3 linked regions of the Homo sapiens genome follow. The protein of the gene in region 1 interacts with the protein of each later gene in a pairwise test. Each region holds a gene or a part of one and is shown on either strand. Other genes may lie near its edges.

Region 1 (7,025 bases):
AAGCAAGAGTGGCTGCAATTCTTATTTCCCTTGTATAATACATTTATCAAATTGGAATTGGGTCTGTAAGCCTCATCAGTTACCTAGTTTTCTGGTGGTACACTAACTTCGTGTTGGTTTCATGAAAAATATTAACTCTGGTGTTAATGATAAAATTATGTGTTTGGATTGCTGTTTATAGCCCAAAGATTTTAGTTTCAAGAATTTCCTTTTTTCCTCTCCTATATTTAGGCACTATAAGCATTTCTGCTGTATACCTGTCTTCAGGGTTTATGACTAAGGCATATAAATCTATTCTCATCCAACCTGGATATATCAAGATTGTTGTTTTCTGACTGAAAATTACAATTTTAATTCTGTATTTGTCTTCCTTCCCTTATCATAGCCATAAGAAAATATTTAGACTTAAAAATTCCTATGCGAGGCCGTGCGCAGTCACTGACACCTGTAATCCCAGCACTTTGGCAGGCTGAGGCAGGCAGATCACCTGAGGTCAGGAGTTCGAGACCAGCCTGGCCAACATGATAAAACCCTGTCTCTACTAAAAATACAAAAATTAACCAGGCATGGTGGCGTGCGCCTGTAGTCCTAGCTACTCAGGAGGCTGAGGCAGAGAATTGCTTGAACCTAGTAGGCGGAGGTTGCAGTGAGCCGAGATGGCACCACTGCTCTCCAGCCTGGGCAACAGAGTGAGACCCTGTCTCAAAAAAAAAAAAAAAAAAAAAATTCCTGTGCAAGATATCTGAAACTCTTGACATGGTTAAAAATGTAAGGTTTTTTTAACTTATTAAGCAAACTAAGAAATATCTAGATGAAGAAAGTAATACATTTTCAGAAGCAGTTCAGGAAGGCAGAATTAGTGTGTAAGTGAAGATCCCGTGTGGGGTATGGGTGGTCAGTAGTTGTAATAATTTCTGTTGGTTGTGTCTTCTAAAGACTTCTTGATTGCGTTTTGTCTCCATTTTTCCCCTGTTGTCTGTAGCTTGGTGCAGGAGCTTATGGTCAAGAATATGGACACTGCAGTCAGACAGTCCTGAGTTTGTGTCCTGATATCTGTGCTGACTTGTAGAAAATGAATTAATCTTTATAAACTTAATTTTTCTTATTTGTAAAATGGGGCAATAATGGCCTCTGTTGCCCAAGGTTGTATTGATCAAATGACAATACATATGAGATGTGGCACACATCTAAGCTAAGTTGATATAGTCTGTTGCTCCTGTTGCTGTTGCTTAGTTTGTATTATTGCTGATCCATCACATTTTGCTTGCAATATACTAGTATCCTAATTATTGCAGTAGTGTCCTTATATCTTCCATCTCCCATCTCTTCTTTTAAATATGTCTTCCACATTACCACCAGTTAGCTTTCTAAAAACATTATTATAGATCACTCCTCTGTGGCCTTCTGGATAAAGGTCAAACACTTTGTCATAGTATATATGGTTCTCTGCAACCCAGCTGCAAGCTTCCTTTCCTGGCTTAGTTACTACCGTTTCATGCCCATGCATCCTTCCTCTTTCTTCCCCCTGCTCTGGTCACTCGGGACGTCAGGTTGTCTAACTGTGCACTCTACATTCATGCCCCTGTGTATGCTGTTGTCTTTGCCTGTTGGTACCCTTCCTCCCACTTTTTCACCTGACAAATTCTTGATTACCAATAACTGCAAGTTCTTTGTTCTCTGTGATCTCAAAGGATTTTGATTTTGCACATGGTTCTGGCATCCTCCCTCAGATGAAGTCTTTGAAGTTATGGGCTATTATTCATTTTTGTATCTTTATACCCTTGTTGTCGAATGTAACTGGCTATATTTAAATGTATCTTATTTTTTCTTGGGTGAGATACTGTATACACTCTGTAGGGGAGCTATAGGGGCCTCTGTTGAGCTTGTGTTATATACTTTGGTTCACGTGATCACTTTAATTACACTATCTTGTTTGTTGTAGAGTATATAATATGTAAAGACAGAGATTGTTGGTGCTCCAAGGATTAACAGGTTTTTTTTAAAGGAGTTAGTGTGTTCTTCTATCTATATTAACTTAATGGAATGAATCCTTTCATTCCCATAGAGTTGTAAATAGGATACCGTATTACCTACTAAAACAAGAGTTTAGGTTTCTGATTTGCTTTTTTTTTTCAAAGACAATATTGAAAAAGTTGAAACTTGCCTCCTCTTGGTATTCATGATAACTTCAGTTGCCTGAGGAAGGAGGTGATCTGGCTTCTCTTGTCTGCCCTAGTAAGTGGAATGATTTTTTAAAAATTCACTGGAAATCTCTGAACTTGGATGTTTTTTTGTTTGTTTTTGAGACAAAGTCTCGCTCTGTTGGCTAGGCTGGAGTGCAGTGGTGCAATCTCAGCTTACTGCAACCTCCGCCTCCTGGGTACAAGCAGTTCACCTGCCTCAGCCTCCCTAGTAGCTGCCACCACACCTGCCACCACGCCCGGCTAATTTTTTTGTATTGTTAGTAGAGACTGGGTTTCACCATGTTGGCCAGGCTGCTTTTGAACTCCTGACCTCAAGTGATCCACCCGCCTCGGCCTCCCAAAGTGCTAGGATTACAGGCATGAGCCACTGCGCCTGGCCCGAACTTGGGTTTTTATATGAATTAAGTTGTAAAGGATCTTACTTGCTTTTCCTCTTTTGAGACTAGTGCTCCTTCTCACCAGTGCCCCCTGCCAACTTTATGCTCAATTTAAGTTAGTATGAATTCACTTAGAAAAGTACAAATAGCTTTGTGTTCTTAAAGAAATTAGTAGTAGATAATTTTTTTTATTATTATTAAATTTGAGGCAGTCTCACTCTGTTGCCCAGGCTGGAATGCAGTGGTGTGATCTCTGCTTACTGCAACCTCTCCTCTCGGGCTCAAGCGATCCTCCCATCTCATCCTCCATGGTAGCTGAGACTCCAGGTGCGCGGCTAATTTTTGTGTTTTTTGTAGACATGGGGTCTTACCATGTTACTCAGGCTGGTCTTGAACTTTGGGTTCAAGCAGTCCTACCGTCAGGCCACTGTGCCCAGCTTGAGAAAATGTCAAAAGTTTTTATATCATTGAAAAAAGTTAAAAAAAAATCTACAGCACATTAGACTGTAAATAGAATTTTATGCTAAATTTTGTCTAGTTCTTCCCCATTACGTCCCTTCTTTTTTCTTTCTTTTTTTTTTTTTCTTAAGAGACAAGAGTCTTGCTCTGTTGCCCAGGCTGGAATGCAGTGGTGTGATCTTAGCTCACTGTGTCCTTGTCCTCCTGGGTTCAGGTGATCCTTCTGCCTCAGCCTCCCAAGTACCTAGGACTATAGGCACGTGCCACCATGCCTGGCTTATTTTAAAGATTTTGTAGAGACAGGGTTTGTTTGTTGCCCAGGCTCGTCTTGAACTCCTGGGCTCAAGTGATTCTCCCACTCAGCCTCCCAAAGTGCTGGGATTACAGAAATGAGCCACTACTGCTGCAACGCACCCCTTAATCCCCAGTTCTTATCTTTTGGAATTTCGAGGGGAGGAGACCAATTATGATACAGTTTTTCTCCTTTGTTCTCCTCCCCTTTTTCAGTTCATTTGTTCTGCGAATGGCATTTGGAAGCTAGTATTTGGGAGTGAAGTTTGAGATGAAAAGACAACTAATTTGTTGTTAATCAGGGACATTCCATGCTTTGTGGAGGTTTTATACTGATGTGTTTCCTGTTGACTTTTGCTATCAGCAGTAGACAAGTAGAGTCTACTTTCTTTTTAGTTTATTATTATATTTTTTTCTCTTTGCTTTTTAAGACCACTTACAATAAGTTTCTACATACTAGAGTCTGTGTACTTTTCTTCTTAGGATTGTTTATCCTGTGCTATGTTGAGTAGAGTTAGTTAAGAAAAATTTTTTGCAGTGACCCAGAATTTAAAGAACTACCTTCTTAGAGGACAGTTTAAGGAGGTCTATAATATGGAAAAATTATTGAATTTTAGTCAGGTGGATATTATCATGTTTGTTCATTTTATAGATGAAAGTGGGAACTGAGGCACAGTGAAATGAAGTGAATTATATTGTTGAAGACTCTAAGCTATTTGTCCTGATTTCCATACTACTGTACTCTCCCCTGTATCTGTGTTTCCCAAGCTTTTAACCAAGGAACTCATCATGAGTCCAGTTGTAAAAAATATTTTGCCTATCAAAAAGTATAATATATTATCAGGAGGCTGGGTGCGGTGGCTTATGCCTGTGATCCCAGCACTTTGGGAGGCCAAGGCGGGTGGATCACTTGAGGTCAGGAGTTCGAGACCAGCCTGGCCAACATGGTGAAACCCTGTCTCTACTAAAAATACAAAAATTAGGTGTGCATGGTGGCGCACACCTATAATCCTAGCTACTCTAGCTACTTGGGAGGCTGAGGCAGGAGAATCACTTGAACCTGGGAGGTGGAGGTTGCAGTGAGCTGAGATAGTGCCACAGCACTCCAGCCTGAGTGACAGAGCTAGACTCTGTCTCAAAAAAAACCAAAAACCAAAAAACAAACTCCCCCCCAGAAAACAGTATATTATCAGGGAATAATTTGTTTTCTTATTTTTTGATACATTGAGCTGTCGATCAGCTCCAAATCACTATTTTCAAACCGTTAACGTGAGTTTCACCAAAGTCAAAGACACTTAAAAAACTTTATCCCAGAGAAGGCTGAATATGTGATTTCTTATAGATGTTCTGAAGAATTGAAACTGGCTCAAGAAGCACCTGTCCTGCCTTTGCAGACACCTGGTGGTCTAGAGACCTCAAGTGAGGAATTACTGTACTGTATGTTACTTTCTCTGAACTGTAGATTCCCAGGAGTCATGGGAGATTGGATTCCAAGGTCTGTTTATGGATGTTCTGAGACTTTTTTTTTTTGAGACAGGGTCTCGCCCTGTCACCCAAGCTGGAGCACAGTGGTGTGATCATGGCTCACTGCAGCCTCAACCTCTCAGACTTAAGTGATCCTTCTACCTCAGCCTCCTGAGTAGCTGGGACCACAGGCATGCACCACCATGCCTGGCTAATTTTGTATTTTTTGTAGAGAGAGGGTTTCACTATGTTGCCCCAGCTGGTCTCGAACTCCTGGGCTCAAGTGATCCTCCCACCTTGACCTCCCAAAGTGTTGGGGTTACAGGCATGAGCCACTGTGCATGGTGCTGAGACTTTTTTTCAGTGTCTCAGAGACTGTTGTATCTAGAAAGAGATCTTAGAGGTAATCTAATCTGGTCTAGAGTTTTTTTTTTTAAGGCTTTATTTATATACAATGTACATATCATGTAAGTTACATGATGTGACTGTATATCATATATGATTACGTATCCCATTTAAAGTGTACCATTCAACTTTTTTTTTATAGGATTGTACAATCGTCACGCCAATTTAAAATGTTTTAGTTACCCCTAAAAGAAACTTGGTACCCATTAGCAGTCGCTCCCCATAACCCTCTCCAGCCTTAAGCAACCACTTATCTACTTTCTGTCTCTATAGAAGTGGAATCTTGCGACTGGTTTCTTTTGGCATAATGGTTACTTTTTTTTTTTTTTTTTTTTTTTGAGACGGAGTTTCTCTGTGTCACCCATACTGGAGTGCAGTGGCGCGATGCCGGCTCGTTGTAACCTCCGCCTCCTGGGTTCATGCAATTCTGCCTCAGCCTCCTGAGTAGCTGGGATTATAGGTGCCCGCCACCGTACCCAGCTAATTTTTCAATTTTTAGTAGAGATGGGGTTTTGCCATCTCAAAGCCTCAGTGATGTTTAGTAGAGATGGGGTTTGGCCATCTCCTGACCTCAAGTGATCCACCTGCCTTGGCCTGCCAAAGTGCTGGGATTACAGGCATGAGCCACTGCGCCCAGCCTGGTGTAATGTTTTCAAGATTCATCAGGTTGTAGTATCATTACTTCATTCCTTTTTATTGCCAAATAATACCCCATTGTATGGATATGCCACATTTTATTAATCCCTTCATCAGTTGACAGAGATATGGGTTGTTTCTACTTTTTACTATTATTAATAATGCTGCTATGAACATTTCATGTATAAGTTTTTGTATGGATATATGTTTTTCTTTTGGATATATACCTAAAAATGGAATGTCTGGGTCATATGGTAACTCTATGTTTAACTTTTTGAGGAACTTTCAAACTGTTTTCCAAAATAGCTGCTCCATTTTATATTCCCACCAGCAATAATACATGATGGGTCCTATTTCTCCACGTCATGGCCAGTGCATGTTATTGTCTGTCTTTTTGATTATAGGCATTCTAGTGGATGTGAAGTGATATTGTAAGTGGCTTTGACGTGCATTTTTCTAACAACTTATGATGGTGAGCATTTTTTCATGTGCTTATTGGCCATTTGTATATCTTCTTTGAAGAAATGTCTATTCAAGTACTTTGCCCATTTAAAAAATCATTTTTATTGAATTTTAAGAGTTCTTTATAACATATATGATTTGCAAATATATGCAGTATTTTTTTCCCATTCTATGGAAGAATCACCTGAGGTTTTTTTTTTTTTTTTTTCTGTTACCGTTTCATTCTGTCACCCAGACTGGAGTGCAGGGGGCATGGTCATGGCTCACTGCAATCTCCACCTTCTGGGATCAAGCAATCCTCTCACCCCAGCCTCCGGAGTAGCTAGGACTACAGTTGCACACCACCATGCCCAGCTAATTTTTGTATTTTTTTGTAGAGATGGGGTTTTGCCATGTTGTCCAGGCTGGTCTCAAACTCCTGGGCTCAAGCAATCCACCTGACTCAGCCTGCCAAAGTGCTGGGATTACAGGCATGAGTCACAGTGCCTGTCTTCACCTGAGTTTTTTATGTGCACTTAATTTTGAGAACCACTGGTAATGGAAACAAGAGCTTTGAAGGTAGGCCGTAGATTGAAACCCAGCTCTGCTGCTTATTAGCTGGGTAATCTTGGACAAGTGGCTTAGCTTTTCTGAGCTTCAGTATTTTGTATGTGTGAAACAAGATTAATATTGACCTTTTTGCTTTTCTGTGAAAGTAAAATGAGACAGGTGAAATGCCAAGAATGGT
Region 2 (7,025 bases), on another chromosome or scaffold:
TACCCAGCCATGAGGATCAGGGCAGCTGGAGGGCCACCACTGAGCTGTGTTTGGGGGCAGCCAGGAGCATGCGCTGCCAGACAGAGGACCCTTTCCAGGCTGGCTGAGGACAGAAGGATGTGATCATTAAGCAAAGCCAACATGTTACTGACCCATAATCCCTTAAACCAGGAGGATTCGGGAAGGGCCTGGTCGCCTTGGCAACTAGGTGCTGGCCAGTCGCAGGGCTGAGAGCATCCTCCAGGAGTGGGCTGTGCCTGGTGCTGGTGCATGGGTAACAGCTGGGAGCGGGTGCAGGGCGGCCCATCATAGGGCTCACCCCCTGGTGCCTTCTTGCCAGCATGGGTGGAAGCCCTTGTGAGGCCTCAAGGGCAGTGTGTGCAGAGCAGGATGAGAGGGGGGCTGCACTGAGCGTGTAGGAAACCATGAAGGGAAGTGGAGGGGAGGTGAGACAGCGCTGCTCTGGGTTTTCAGGGCAGGAGGGAGAAGGGAGGGTCTGCAGGAAGAAGCAGTTGCATGGGTCTCATTGGGTGGCCAGCAGGGCATCCTCTAATTCAGAGGGCACGAGGAGCTGGGTAGCCTGAAGAAGAAAGCTTTCATGGTTGGGGACAGGACCGTGGGGGTGGGCAGAGCAGCTTACCCCGCTCCTCCATGGTGTTCTCGGTAGGGGATACCTGCCTGCTTGGAGGGCTCTGGCATGGGAAGAGGCCTGCAGGGATCAAGCCTCATCTTCCCTAGGGCTCGACTCTATTAATGGCAAGCTTCCGTGTTTCCCCTGAGACCTTCCACTGCTCCTGACCTCCTGTATTTCAGCTGGAGAGAAGGTGCAGCTGGCCAGCTCTGATGCACTCTTCCCTTCCTCCTCTTTTTCCCCTCTTGCCTCCTGGGGCATGCCAGAGCAGAGACCTTCAGGTGTCAGTATCAGAGGTGAAATGAGGTTTGGACCCAATCATGTCCCAAGGGTGTTGGCCAAGCTGACATTCAGTTTACGGGCCTTGGTCAGTAAGATTTATTGGCTGTTGACACATTCAGGCCCTTGGACACAAGTTGGTAAATTTCTGCTGGTCCAAGGACTGCCTGGTTCTGGCACCCTCCCTGCCACCCCAGCCCTTCCCCCAGAACTCTCTAGACCTCCAGCAGCTAAAGGGCTTAGGTCTGGGGGGCCTTCAGGATCCTCTTTGCACATCATGCCTGCTATTATGACCAATACTTTGCTGGACTAGGTGGTCCATAGAGAACTGCACAGGGCGTGGCGGGGCGGGCGGTGGGCAGTGGAGGCAGTGCTGAGGGTCACTGGGAGGAAGAAGGTGACTGGGAAGAAGAGGGTGAACACCCACCCTCAGAGGGGTCAAACTTTGCAGAAGACACAACCCTGGCTCCCAGTGATGGTGGCATACAGGGCGACAGAGCTTGATGAGAGAGCTGAATTCCCAGTGGGTGGAGACCTGGACTGGTTGCCTTGTTCTTTTCAACTGCTCTTCTCACACTTCCCATCTCAGGACCCGGCTGCCCAGTCCCTCATGATCATGAACAAGATGAAGAACTTTAAGCGCCGTTTCTCCCTGTCAGTGCCCCGCACTGAGACCATTGAAGAATCCTTGGCTGAATTCACGGAGCAATTCAACCAGCTCCACAACCGGCGGAATGAGAGTGAGGGGTCTGGGCCCACCCAGCACCTCTCCCACCTACCAGACACTCCCCAGTCACCTTCCCCTCCCCGCCCACCCCCTCCCCACTGGCCTTAGGGGAGGAGCACAGCGCTGGGGGAGGGGGGCTACCCTTCTCTCCCTCAGGACAGAGAGGCAGGGAGGGGAGCTGACGCCTGTCCCTCTTAGACTTGCAGCTCGGTCCTCTTGGCAGAGACCCCCCGCAGGAGTGCAGCACCTTCTCCCCAACAGACAGCGGGGAGGAGCCGGGGCAGCTCTCCCCTGGCGTGCAGTTCCAGCGGCGGCAGAACCAGCGCCGCTTCTCCATGGAGGTAAGGGCCTCTGGAGCTCTGCCCCGGCAGGTGGCAGGATGCACGCACAAGGGTGTGCACAGGAGGGCAGCTGCCTTACAGCCAGACTTTGTGAGTTCAAATTCCACCTCTGCCATTCATTAGCTCTGTGACTTTGAGCAAGTTACTCAACCTCTGTGCACCATGGTCTCCTTGTCTTTAAAATGGTCATCATGGATTAAATGGGTTTATCTATGCCAAGTGCTTAGAACATTCCTGAATTTAGCAAGGGCTAGACAATTTGACTATTTGATCCACACACATATGCCCAAGTATATGAAAAAATATACTTACAGAATCGGTGCCTGTAAGGGCATGAGACTGATGTTGCACAGATGGTGATACTGTGGCCCAGAGAGGCAGAGAGTGACCTGGCTGTGCTAAGGTCACACAGCAGCCCCGGGTGTTCACGTGTATGTCTTGAGCACACACTGGGAGCAGCTGTGAGCCTGGGGTCACAGCCTGTGATTGGGCTCTGAATGGTTGTTCTGCAGGGAACGCTAGGTCCAGAGTGAAAGTCTGGAGCCCCACAGCCCTAGCTACCCTGAAACCAACAGTGGTGTCCCCATCTCATCCCTGTCACCACAGGACGTCAGCAAGAGGCTCTCTCTGCCCATGGATATCCGCCTGCCCCAGGAATTCCTACAGAAGCTACAGATGGAGAGCCCAGATCTGCCCAAGCCGCTCAGCCGCATGTCCCGCCGGGCCTCCCTGGTGAGTCCCAAGAGGGTCAGAGGACACAAGGTGGGGTGATATGCCCTCCCCAGCATGGGCATATCAGTCCCAGCTGAGGCCTAGATGGGATTTCGAGGAAGATTCCTGGGCCTCTGGTGCCACCTGCTGGCTTGAGTGCATTCAACTAGCTCGTCCTCCTACATCAACATCCATTTCCTAGATGGGTCTCACTTGGGCTGGAATGGGACTCTAAGCCCACAGTGGGTCCCACGGTCTCCACATGGTTAAGATCAATAGGCCAGCTGGCATGTGCCTTCCAGTCCTAACTGCCTATCAGAGCTGTTTGGGACATCTTACAAAACACAGACTCTACCTCCAGACACCTATAGAATCAGCCTCTCCGGCTAGGGGGTCCAGGAATCCGTCTTGTTAAGGGTTGGATACACCTGAGCTAGAAGTGCGCTGATGAGAGACACAGTCAGAGAGGTGGATTCTGAACTGGACACTCAAGGTACAATGGGAAAAAAGGCAGCACTCACTCTGGAGGAGCTCGTGGTCTCAGTCGGAGACACAGGTAGTCAAGATGTGCAACAATCCCAGGTGCCACAGCTCTGGGCTCTACACTCTTGGCTGTCCTGGGAGGAAGAAACTCACACTTTCACGAGCTCTGTCCTTTATCACAGGGATAAAGGGAAAAGGAGCCCCTTCCACCATGGAGTCTCATCCCTTCCCTCCCAGAGGCTGGAGTTGGGGGAGGCGTCATGTCTGTGGAGCTGCTAAGGGCTTCAAGCTCACGGCATTCTATGTCTCTCCCTCTCAGTCAGACATTGGCTTTGGGAAACTGGAAACATACGTGAAACTGGACAAACTGGGAGAGGTAAGACGCTGGGTTTGGTCTTCTCCGAATAGCCAGGCAGGATGGCTTGGAGGAGGGGCAGACCTCCCTAGTCGGCCCTCTCTGGTCGGCCCTCTCTGGTTGGCCCTCTCCTGGCCCCTGCCCCATAGAGGTGCACAGTCTTGGCTGTGCGCTCTGGCCCAGGCTTTGGCAGGGATTGAAGTGAGCTCAGATCCTGAAGGAGGGCGTGAGGATAGAGTAGCCATGGCCCTGGGCAGAATCCAGTCTTTTTTTTTTCTGCAAGTCCTTCTTGCCTGGGTTCAAAACCTAGCTCCACCATTTACTAGCTCTGTGACCTTTGGCAAGTTACATGACCTCTCTGTGTGCCTCAGTTTCTTCCTCTGTCCAATGAGACAGTAATTGTCCTATCACATAGGGTTATTGTGAGGATTGGGCAGGTTACTGTAATCAGCTTATGTACGGCACACAGACAATGCCTGGCACATAGGAAGTGCTGTGTCACTTAGCTATTTTTGTTGTCACTGTGCAGAGGCCTGGGGTGGGTGAAGGTTTATAGAGAGAGGGAACACACAGCCCTTTCCCTCCAGGAGCCCAAAGAGGTGACCTCTGTGTAAACATCAGCATCGTATAAGGAAGAAAAAACCTGGTGTTATCATAGACGGGCACGCGGCGTGCTGGGGCTTAGAGGAAGGACGGATTCACTCCGACTGGGGAGTCATTAGGGATGCTTCCTGGAGGAAGTAGGCTTTGGAGGAAACAGCATGTCAGTAAAGGGAGGAAGGGCACTCAGGCCCCAGTCGTAGCCCAGGCAGAGGCACAAATGGGGAGGCACTGGACAGAGGCCAGCAGCACCTGAATGCGCCTGGGGCCGCTGTGGCCCTCCATCCCAGGGCACCTATGCCACAGTCTTCAAAGGGCGCAGCAAACTGACGGAGAACCTTGTGGCCCTGAAAGAGATCCGGCTGGAGCACGAGGAGGGAGCGCCCTGCACTGCCATCCGAGAGGGTACAGCATCCTAGGCTCCCACGCTCCCCTGGGGGCTTCAGGAGGAGGGGTTCACCAGCCTGCACCCTTGTGGGAGCTGGGGGTAGAGGATCATTGCTGGAATGGGACTCCTGGCGCTGACCCCAAGAAAAGAGGGTATGGGGACACATGGGGTCCTAGGGACCCAGGTGGATCTGTCTCCTCACAGTGTCTCTGCTGAAGAACCTGAAGCACGCCAATATTGTGACCCTGCATGACCTCATCCACACAGATCGGTCCCTCACCCTGGTGTTTGAGTACCTGGTGAGAGTCCGGCTGGGGCTGGCCGCCTCTCCCTCTTGTGGTGGAAACGGGGTGTGGGTAGGGGAGTGGGAAGCTGAGGGAGTGGGAGTAGTGGGATGAGGGCGACCCAGGCCTTGTTCTGGAATCAGATTTTCAGATGCTCCCGTGCAGGAGTGGGCCAAGAGCTCAGGCTTACGGGTGGCTCGAGCCAGGGACCTGTCCCACTAGTGGGCGTGGGCCCTTCCCAGGGAGGGGCTTCCTCTCCTCAGCCTGTGTCTGGGCTTCTGGCCAGGGGTCAGCGTGGGGCAGGACTGAGCCACGCTCTGTGTTCCAGGACAGTGACCTGAAGCAGTATCTGGACCACTGTGGGAACCTCATGAGCATGCACAACGTCAAGGTGAGGCCTCGGGGGCAGGGTCCCCCCATCTTGGCAGCCACCTGTCCAGAAGCCCAGTGTGGGGACCCACTCTCACCACCAGGGATCCGGCTGCTGAGGTGGCTCAGACCTTCCCACGTAGGAAAGAGGGAGAGGGCAATGCCATCAACGAGTCCAGGAACTGGGTTGAGCGCTTTACCCCAAGAACAGACACACACTGTCTGCCACTGTCTAGCTGTTGGTATAAAACCCACTCTCAACTCTGAACATCAGTTTCCCAGTCTGTCAAATGGGAGTGTGAGCTACCTGCCAAAATGCAGGGAGGCTTCTGGGGAAGCTCGGGGTTATGAATGACCTCTCCTGGTGTTTGTTAAAGAATCAAGGCTGGGCATGGTGGCCCACGCCTGTAATCCCAGCACTGGGAGGCCAAGGCAGGAAGATGGCTTGAGCCCAGGAGTTTGAGACCAGCCTGGGCAACATGGCAAGACCTCATCTCTACTAAAAATTGAAAAATTAGCCGGGCACAGTAGCGTGCACCCATAGTCCCAGCTGCTTGAGAGGCTGAGGCAGGAGGGCCACTTGAGCCCGGGAGGTTGAGGCTGCAGTGAGCCATGATCACACCACTGCACTCCAGCCTGGGTGACAGAGTAAAACCCTGACTCTAAAAGAAAAAAAAAAAAAAAAGGGATCAAGCACATATGTCTCCACATAGGCGGGCATCCTGACCCCCGTGCTCCTGACTGAGACTTCGCTGGCCTCCCCCACACTCACTGCGTCCTCTGCACCCCTGCTGTCCTCCCCTCTGGATGGGATTCCCTGGTGTGGGTGGGGTCCAGGATGGGGGCTGCAGGGTGTGCAGGAGAATGAGGGGCTTGTGCTGACCTCACTGCCAAGCCCCTGCCCCCATCCTGGTCCCAGCCTTGGAGCAGAGGCTCAGGGCCACCTTCCACCCCACATTTCTCTTCCCCCTCCCCCAGATTTTCATGTTCCAGCTGCTCCGGGGCCTCGCCTACTGTCACCACCGCAAGATCCTGCACCGGGACCTGAAGCCCCAGAACCTGCTCATCAACGAGAGGGGGGAGCTGAAGCTGGCCGACTTTGGTGAGGCTGGGGCTAGGGTGGGGGTCTGACGCTACTGGGGTGCCTCAGGGTGTGGGTGCAGTGGGGGAGGGCATAGCAGTCAACCCCACAGCACCTGTGGACAGAGGTCCAGTGACATGTCTGCCCCCAGGACTGGCCAGGGCCAAGTCAGTGCCCACAAAGACTTACTCCAATGAGGTGGTGACCCTGTGGTACAGGCCCCCCGATGTGCTGCTGGGATCCACAGAGTACTCCACCCCCATTGATATGTGGTGAGTGAGCACTGTGGGGACCGAGGAGGGGAGGACAGGCCTGGCCACACCTCCAGACTCTCCTTTGCTTCCCCAAGGGCCTCGGGGAAGAACTGCCTAACTTCCTTTGCCTAAAAGCCTTGTGACATCCTGCTGAAATGGATGTTAAAAAATTAGGTCTGAAATATAATAGGTTAGGGTTTCCCTGGCTTAAATAGACCCCCAAGCCTGTGCATTTGAAATCCTCCCCCAGAGGCCTGTGGGGGGTTACCAGAGACCCAGAGGGTCCAGGAGGGCCCCTATAGTAAATACGATGAATCTTCCCCAAGCATCAGTCCCAGTGAAAATTTTGAAAGAGAAGTACTATTTTTATGTTAAAATGAACAAGTGTATGATTTGGTGTAAAATGAAAAATCAGCCCAAATTGCAAGCCAAGCCGCCGGTGGTTATGAATGGCTGCTGTGACTCCGCCCCAAGGTTCCCCAGGAGAATGGATTTATGTACTTCTCTTCCAGTGGGGCACAC
Region 3 (7,025 bases), on another chromosome or scaffold:
GCTGAGGCAGGAGAATTGCTTGAACCCAGGAGGCGGAGGTTGCAGTGAGCCGAGATCACGCCACCACACTCCAGCCTGCGGAGGTCGCAATGAGCCGAGATCGTGCCACTGCACTCCGGCGTGGGCGACAGACCAAGACTCTGTCTCTAAATAAATAAATAAACTCTATAGATCCTACTTTGATTTTACATTTTGCATATACTCTTTTTTGGTGTTTTTGTGTATAATTCTATGGTACTTTATCACGTGTATGGATTCCTTTAACCATCACCACACACCAATGGACACAAGGAATTCCTTTACAGTGGTACCCGACACCCTTCCCACACTTCTTTAATCTGTGGTAACCGCTGATTTGTTCTCCATCTCTCTACTTTTGTCATTTCCAGAATGTTCCATATATAGAATCATACACTATGTGACCCTTTGAGATTTGGCTTCCCCCTCCCCCCTCACTCAGAATAATGCTGCTGCCGGGTGTGGTCGCTCATGCCTGTCATCCCAACTACTCAGGAGGTCAAGGTAGGAGGGTTGCTTGAGGCCAGAAGCTCGAGACCAGCCTGGGCAACATAGCAAGACCCTTGTCTCTAAATAATGTTCTGTTTTGTTTTTAAATTAGCCAGGCATGGTGGTGTGTGCCTGTAGTCTCAGCTACTCAGGAAGCTAAGATTGGAGGATCCCTTGAACCCAGGAGTTCAAGGCTGCAGTGAGCTATGATCCCACCACTGCACTCCAGCCTGGGCGACAGAGACCTCAACTCTAAAAATAATCATAATTTTTTAAAAGATGAATGCTCTTGAAGTTTATCCAAGTTGTTGCACATATCAACAGTTTGTTCCTTTTTATTGCTGAGTACTGTTCTATTGAACAGATGTCCCAGTCTGTCACTAGTCCAGTGTTATGAAAGTTTCTTACTCATCTAAGGGGGAGGGGCTGAGATGGTAAGGAAAAAAACTAGACACAGAGTCCTCAGATTCACACAGTGATTTGTGAACATCCTTGTACCTTGTCACAGACAACCCATGGTGATGTCTGATAAGATTTGATCTCGGTCAGGCCAGGTGCAGTGGCTCATGCCTGTAATCCCAGCACTTCGGGAGGCCGAAGCAGGTGGATCACCTGAAGTCAGGAGTTCGAGACCAGCCTGGTCAACATGGTGAAACCCCGTCTCTACTAAAAATACAAAAAATTAGCTGGGCGTGGTGGCGGGCACCTGTAATCCCAGCTACTCTGGAGGCTGAGGCAGGAGGATCGCTTGAACCTGGGAGGTGGAGGTTGTGGTGAGCCAAGATCATGCCATTGCACTCCAGCTTGGGCAACGGAGCAAAACTCCGTCTCAAAAATAGAAAAATAAAAAGAGATGGGGTTTCACTATGTTGGTCAGGCTGATATCCAACTCCTGACCTCAGGTGATCCACCCACCTCAGCCTCCCAAAGTGTTGAGATTACAGGTCTGAGCCACCTTGCCTGGCCTATCAAGTCTCTTTGTCAGTCAAAAGAGCCAGATAGGATGGGCCCCAGGAGTACCCCGGCATTTCCTCTTGGCCCTGACCCGTGGTCTAGATGATGGATTAATATTTATGAGGGAACGTGCAGTGAGCACAGAATGGGACAACTCCTAGCAGTAAATACTATAGATTTTATTTATTTATTTATTTTTCGAGACAGAGTCTCGGTCTGTCACCCAGGCTGGAGTGCAGTAGCGCCATCTCGGCTCACTGCAGCCTTGACCTCCCGGATTCAGGCAGTCCTCCTGCCTTAGCCCCCCAGGTAACTGGGATTATAGGCACTTGGTGCCATCTCAGCTCACTACAGCCTCAGCCTCCCGGGTTCAAGCAGTCCTCCTGCCTTAGCCTCCCAAGTAGCTGGGATTACAGGCATGTGCCACCATGCCTGGCTAATTTTTGAATTTTTAGTAGAGATGAGGTTTCACCATGTTGCCCAGGCTGCTCTTGAATTCCTGAGCTCAAGCGACTGGCCCGCCTTGGCCTCCCAAAGGGTTGGGATTACAGGTGTGAGCCACCACGCCCGGCCAATACTGTAGAATTTAATAGCAACCAGGTAGAGCATCCAGACCATGCAGGAATCTCCACGGAGCTCTGGATCTAAGCAGGTAGGCAGGGCAGGAAGAGATATGTGCGAGTGGACAGGGAAAGATGTTTTGGAGGTAAGGCTGACAGAGGTGTTGGCGACAGGCTGAGAGGAATGGGCAGGAATTGGGTTTCAGGCCCAAGGCAGTGGGAGCAAAGACGCAGCGATAAGAACACAGCAGGTATGTGTTAGATACAGGGAGAGCTGGATGAGCCTGGAGGGCAGTGAGGCCAGGCAGGAATAGGGGAGCGCCGCCCTGGGCAAGGGGAGAGGAAGTGGGGCAGGTGTGGGGGCATCACCAGGTGTGAGGATGATGGCACAGCTCCCTGTTACCCTCCTTCTTTCCCAGCTCCTGAAACTGGGCACTGGTCTCCTGGAAAGTGGGCGCCATTACCTTGCTGCCAGCCGCGCCTTCGTTGTCGGCATTTGTGACCTGGCCCGCCTGGGTCCACCAGAGCCCATGATGGCGGTATGCGGAGGGTCTGCATCTGGGAGGGAAGGGGTCTGGGATGAGGAGGTGATGCTGTGGAAGAGGAGGGCTGGCCTGGGGTCTGCAGGTTCCAGGCCACAGCAGGGCTGGGCTGCTGTCCATGACAGCCGTAGCAGGCTGGGTCTCGAGTCGGGAGGGTGCTGCCACCCCATGCCTGGTACTCTTTCTGTGCCTCTTCTTGCCTAGGAGTGTCTGGAAAAATTCACCGTGAGCCTGAACCACAAGCTGGACAGCCATGCGGTAAGTAGGGGAAGGTAAGGATTGTCGGGGTGGTGGCCAGGTCACCTGTGGTCCTGACCCCAGTCTACCAACTTCTCCTTCCCTCAGGAGCTTCTAGATGCCACCCAACACACACTGCAGCAGCAGATCCAGACCCTGGTCAAGGAGTGAGATGGGGCCGGGCGCAGTGGCTCATGCCTGTAATCCCAACACTTTGGAAGGCCAAGGCGGGAGGATTGCTTGAGCCCAGGAGTTGGACACCAACCTAGCCAACATGGCGAAACTGTCTCCACAAAAAATACAAAAATTAGGCCGGGCACGGTGGCTCATGCCTATGATCCCGGCATTTTGGGAGGCCAAGGCGGGCGGATCACCTGAGGTCGGGAGTTCGAGACCAGCCTGTCTAACATGGCAAAACCCCAGCTCTACTAAAAAATACGAAAAAAAAAAATTAGCCGGGCATGGTGGCAGGTGCCTGTAATCCCAGCTACTCAGGAGGCCGAGGCAGGAGAATCATTTGAACCCAGGAGGTGGAGGTTGCAGTGAGCCAAGATCGCACTACTTCACTTCAGCCTGGGCAACAGAGTGAGACTCTGCCTCAAAAAAAAAAAAAAAAAAAAAAAAATAGCCGGGCGTGGTGGCACATGTCTGTTGTCCCAGCTTCTTGGGAGGCTGAGGCAGGAGAATTGCTTGAGCCTGGAGGTCAGGGCTGCGGTGAGCCATGATTGTGCCACTGTACTCCAGCCTGGGTAACAGAGCAAGACCCGGTCTCAAAAACAAAAACAACAACAACAACAAAAATTTTTTAAAGGGGGAGTGAGATGGGAGAGAAGGGGGCCTTATTTCTCGGAAACCAGCCCTGCTGCCCTCTTCCCATGGCCACAGGAGCCTCCCCAGTGACGGAGTTGTGAGATTGGGGGTTTCTGGTGTCCTGACTTCCGTCCCAGGGATCACCTTGGGTTTCCCACGTTGCAGAGACTAACTGAAAGGACATGAGGGCTTTACCCTGGGAATGCTCTGCTGGGGCAGGTGGGTGTTAGCTGCGATTCTGTGTTATTTTCCCATCCTCAGAGGTCTGCGGGGTTTCCGAGAGGCTCGCCGGGATTTCTGGCGGGGGGCTGAGAGCCTGGAGGCTGCCCTGACCCACAACGCAGAGGTTCCCAGGCGCCGGGCCCAGGAGGCAGAAGAGGCAGGAGCTGCTTTGAGGACGGCTCGAGCTGGGTACCGGGGACGGGCACTGGATTATGCCCTGCAGGTGCCTGCCCCAATCTGTCTTCCTGGGGTACCAGAGCCTCAAGTGTCACCTCGAGGCTTGGGGGTCTCCAGTGTGCAGTGGGAAGGGGTGCTGTGTCTTCAAGACTGATCTGGGGTTTTTTACGTCCTCTTTTACGTCCTCAGATCAACGTGATTGAGGACAAGAGGAAGTTTGACATCATGGAGTTTGTGAGTTGTGGCGGGGGTGAGGGCAGGGTGGAGAAGAGCCTGCTGCCAGCACAAGGGAATGGGGAGAGGGGTTCTTCCTCAGCCTTCCCACTGCCCGCCTTGTCCCCCAGGTGCTGCGTTTGGTGGAGGCCCAGGCTACCCATTTCCAGCAGGGCCATGAGGAGCTGAGCCGGCTGTCCCAGTATCGAAAGGAGCTGGGCGCCCAGGTGGGGCCCCAGGGCACAGCAGGTGGTAGAGGGAGGTTAGGGACTCCTAACTGGGGGGCCTTGGACATCTGAGATGCCCTTCCTGTGCCCAGTTGCACCAGCTGGTCTTGAATTCAGCACGAGAGAAGAGGGACATGGAGCAGAGACACGTGCTGCTGAAACAGAAGGTGAGGGGCCAGGTGCGGTGGCCCACGACCGTCATCCCAACATGTTGGGAGGCTGAGGTGGGAAGATTGCTTGAGGCCTGGAGTTCAAGATTAGCCTAGGCATCGTAGTGAAACTCCATCTCTACAGAAAATTTTAAAATTAGCTGGTGTGGTGGCATGCACCTCTAGTTCTAGCTACTCAGGAGGCTGAGGTGGGAGGATTGCTTGAGCCCAGGAGTTCAAGACTGCAGTGAGCTATGATCACACAACTGCACTTAAGCCTGGGTGAAAGAACAAGACCCTGTCTCTAAAAATAAATTTTAAAAAGTATTTCAAAAAGCAGAAAGTAAGGGCTAGGGCTGTGGGCAGGAGGCAGATGCCTATGGCCTTGGTGTCTGCCCATCTCAGTTGCCCTTTGATCCTCTTGTGCCTCCAGGAGCTGGGTGGGGAGGAGCCAGAACCAAGCTTAAGAGAGGGGCCTGGTGGCCTGGTGATGGAAGGACATCTCTTCAAACGGGCCAGCAACGCATTTAAGACCTGGAGCAGGTGAGGAGAGGACACCCCCAATCAGCCCGCCCCACCCAATGATGTATTTTCGAGTGGTAATAGCACACTAAGCACTGCAAGGAAAAACAGACGAACCCCCCTGCCTCAGTAGAGTTTCATTCCATCAGCAAAGACAGAGGATAAACCTAGTATGTAAATTACGTGCTATGTTAGAAGGTGATAGTGCTTGCTATAGGAGAAAGATGATAAAGCAAGGGATGTGGGGAGCTGGGTAGGGGTTACAGTTCTAAATAGTTGGGCAGTGTGGGCTTCATGAGAAGGTAACTTTTGAACAAAGACTTGAAGGATATCTGGGGGAAGAAAGTTCTAGACAGAAGAAAGAGCCAGTGCCAAGGCCCTGAGATAGCTGGGGAGTTGGAAGAGCAGGGTGGTGGCCCTGGGTCTGGACAGAGTGAGGGAGGAGGATGTGCAGGAGATGAAATCGGAGCTAATGGGGGCATGAGTCATTATAGGGCCCTATAGATTTTTGTAGGGATTTGGGGTCTACTCTGAGAGCAATTGGGAGCCGCTATAGGGTTTGGAACAGGATGGTGGCATGCTGTGACTTGACTCCTTTCCCTTCTAGGGCCACTGCTAGCCCACATGGGATCTCTGTACAAATTAGAAAATGGAGCTGCTTCCCCAAGATACTCTTTTTTCTTTTTCTTTTCTTTTTTTTTTTCTGTTTTTTTTGAGATGGGGTGTCACTCTGTTGCCCAGCCTGCAGTGCAGTGGCGCAGTCTCGGCTCACTGCAACCTCTATCCCCTGAGTTCAAGTGATCCTCCCTCCTCAGCATCCTAAATAGCTGGGACCACAGGCGTGTGCCATCACGCTCGGCTAATTTTTGTATTTTTGGTAGAAACAGGGTTTCACCATGTTGCCCAGGCTGGTTGCAAACTCCTGACATCAAGCAATCCACCCGCCTCGGCCTCCCAACTTGCTGGGATTACAGGCGTGAGCCACTGTACCTGGCCCCCAAGATTCTTTCTTTTCTTTTTTTCTTTTTCTTTTTTTTTCTTTTTTGATGGAGCCTCGCTATGTTGCGCAGGCTGCAGCACAGTGGTGCGATCTCAGCTCACTGCAACCTCAGCTTCCTGGGTTCAAGCGATTCTCCTGCCTCAGCCTCCCAAGTAGGTGGGATTATAGCCGCCTGCCACCACGCCTGGCTAATTTTTGTATTTTTAGTAGAGACGGAGTTTCACCATATTGGTCAGGGTGGTCTCAAACTCCTGACCTCGGGTGATCCACCACCCCCATCAGCCTCCCAAAGTGCTGGGATTACAGGTGTGAGCCCAGCCTAAATAGTATTTTTTAAATTGTAGCAATAGACATTTTATTAGAAAAAGAATTTTACTGCCATCTGCTGGAAAGTTGTCTTCATAACTATATGAAATCTGGGTTGTCCAAGATAGGAATAGCATCCTTTAGATGTTCCAATCTGCACAATTGTCCACCCTTCTCTGGAATGTCTCGTGGAACAGTCAGCCCAGGTGTCTGTCCTCTCAGTAAGATCCTCATGGGCAAAAAGCACAGCCTCTCTTCCGTCCCTCATCCTAAAGCTGCCTATGTCTGTAATGATTTCCTTCTCTTACAGACGCTGGTTCACCATTCAGAGCAACCAACTGGTTTACCAGAAGAAGTACAAGGTGAGTGGACCTGGGTCCTGGATGCCTGGGCCCCAGGGAGACTCAGCTCTTGCCTGCAGCTGGACATCTGGCCCCTTATCACCTTATCCTGCCAGGACCCTGTGACTGTGGTGGTGGATGACCTTCGTCTCTGCACAGTGAAACTCTGCCCTGACTCAGAAAGGCGGTTCTGCTTTGAGGTGGTGTCCACCAGCAAGTGAGTGCAATCCCCAGGGGTGATACTCTAATATATCTAAA

Evidence for each region. Proteins that work in one complex are often made in the same cells at the same time.
Region 2: the proteins of FCHSD2 (region 1) and CDK18 interact in binary tests that used the Homo sapiens proteins (3 or more experiments, as listed by UniProt).
Region 3: the proteins of FCHSD2 (region 1) and ACAP1 interact in binary tests that used the Homo sapiens proteins (3 or more experiments, as listed by UniProt).

The regions. Positions count from the first base shown.
Region 1 is NC_000011.10:73,132,306-73,139,330, reverse strand, and holds part of FCHSD2 (F-BAR and double SH3 domains protein 2), read left to right. Parts: intron 1-7,025. UniProt on the Homo sapiens protein: Adapter protein that plays a role in endocytosis via clathrin-coated pits. Contributes to the internalization of cell surface receptors, such as integrin ITGB1 and transferrin receptor.
Region 2 is NC_000001.11:205,521,648-205,528,672, forward strand, and holds part of CDK18 (cyclin-dependent kinase 18), read left to right. Parts: intron 1-1,499; 5' UTR 1,500-1,520; coding exon 1,521-1,650; intron 1,651-1,835; coding exon 1,836-1,978; coding exon of another isoform or gene 1,979-2,068; intron 2,069-2,584; coding exon 2,585-2,710; intron 2,711-3,491; coding exon 3,492-3,548; intron 3,549-4,417; coding exon 4,418-4,532; intron 4,533-4,719; coding exon 4,720-4,814; intron 4,815-5,127; coding exon 5,128-5,190; intron 5,191-6,146; coding exon 6,147-6,270; intron 6,271-6,400; coding exon 6,401-6,521; intron 6,522-7,025. UniProt on the Homo sapiens protein: May play a role in signal transduction cascades in terminally differentiated cells.
Region 3 is NC_000017.11:7,339,508-7,346,532, forward strand, and holds part of ACAP1 (arf-GAP with coiled-coil, ANK repeat and PH domain-containing protein 1), read left to right. Parts: intron 1-2,440; coding exon 2,441-2,560; intron 2,561-2,767; coding exon 2,768-2,821; intron 2,822-2,908; coding exon 2,909-2,967; intron 2,968-3,871; coding exon 3,872-4,055; intron 4,056-4,198; coding exon 4,199-4,243; intron 4,244-4,353; coding exon 4,354-4,449; intron 4,450-4,541; coding exon 4,542-4,616; intron 4,617-5,031; coding exon 5,032-5,141; intron 5,142-6,736; coding exon 6,737-6,788; intron 6,789-6,883; coding exon 6,884-6,984; intron 6,985-7,025. UniProt on the Homo sapiens protein: GTPase-activating protein (GAP) for ADP ribosylation factor 6 (ARF6) required for clathrin-dependent export of proteins from recycling endosomes to trans-Golgi network and cell surface.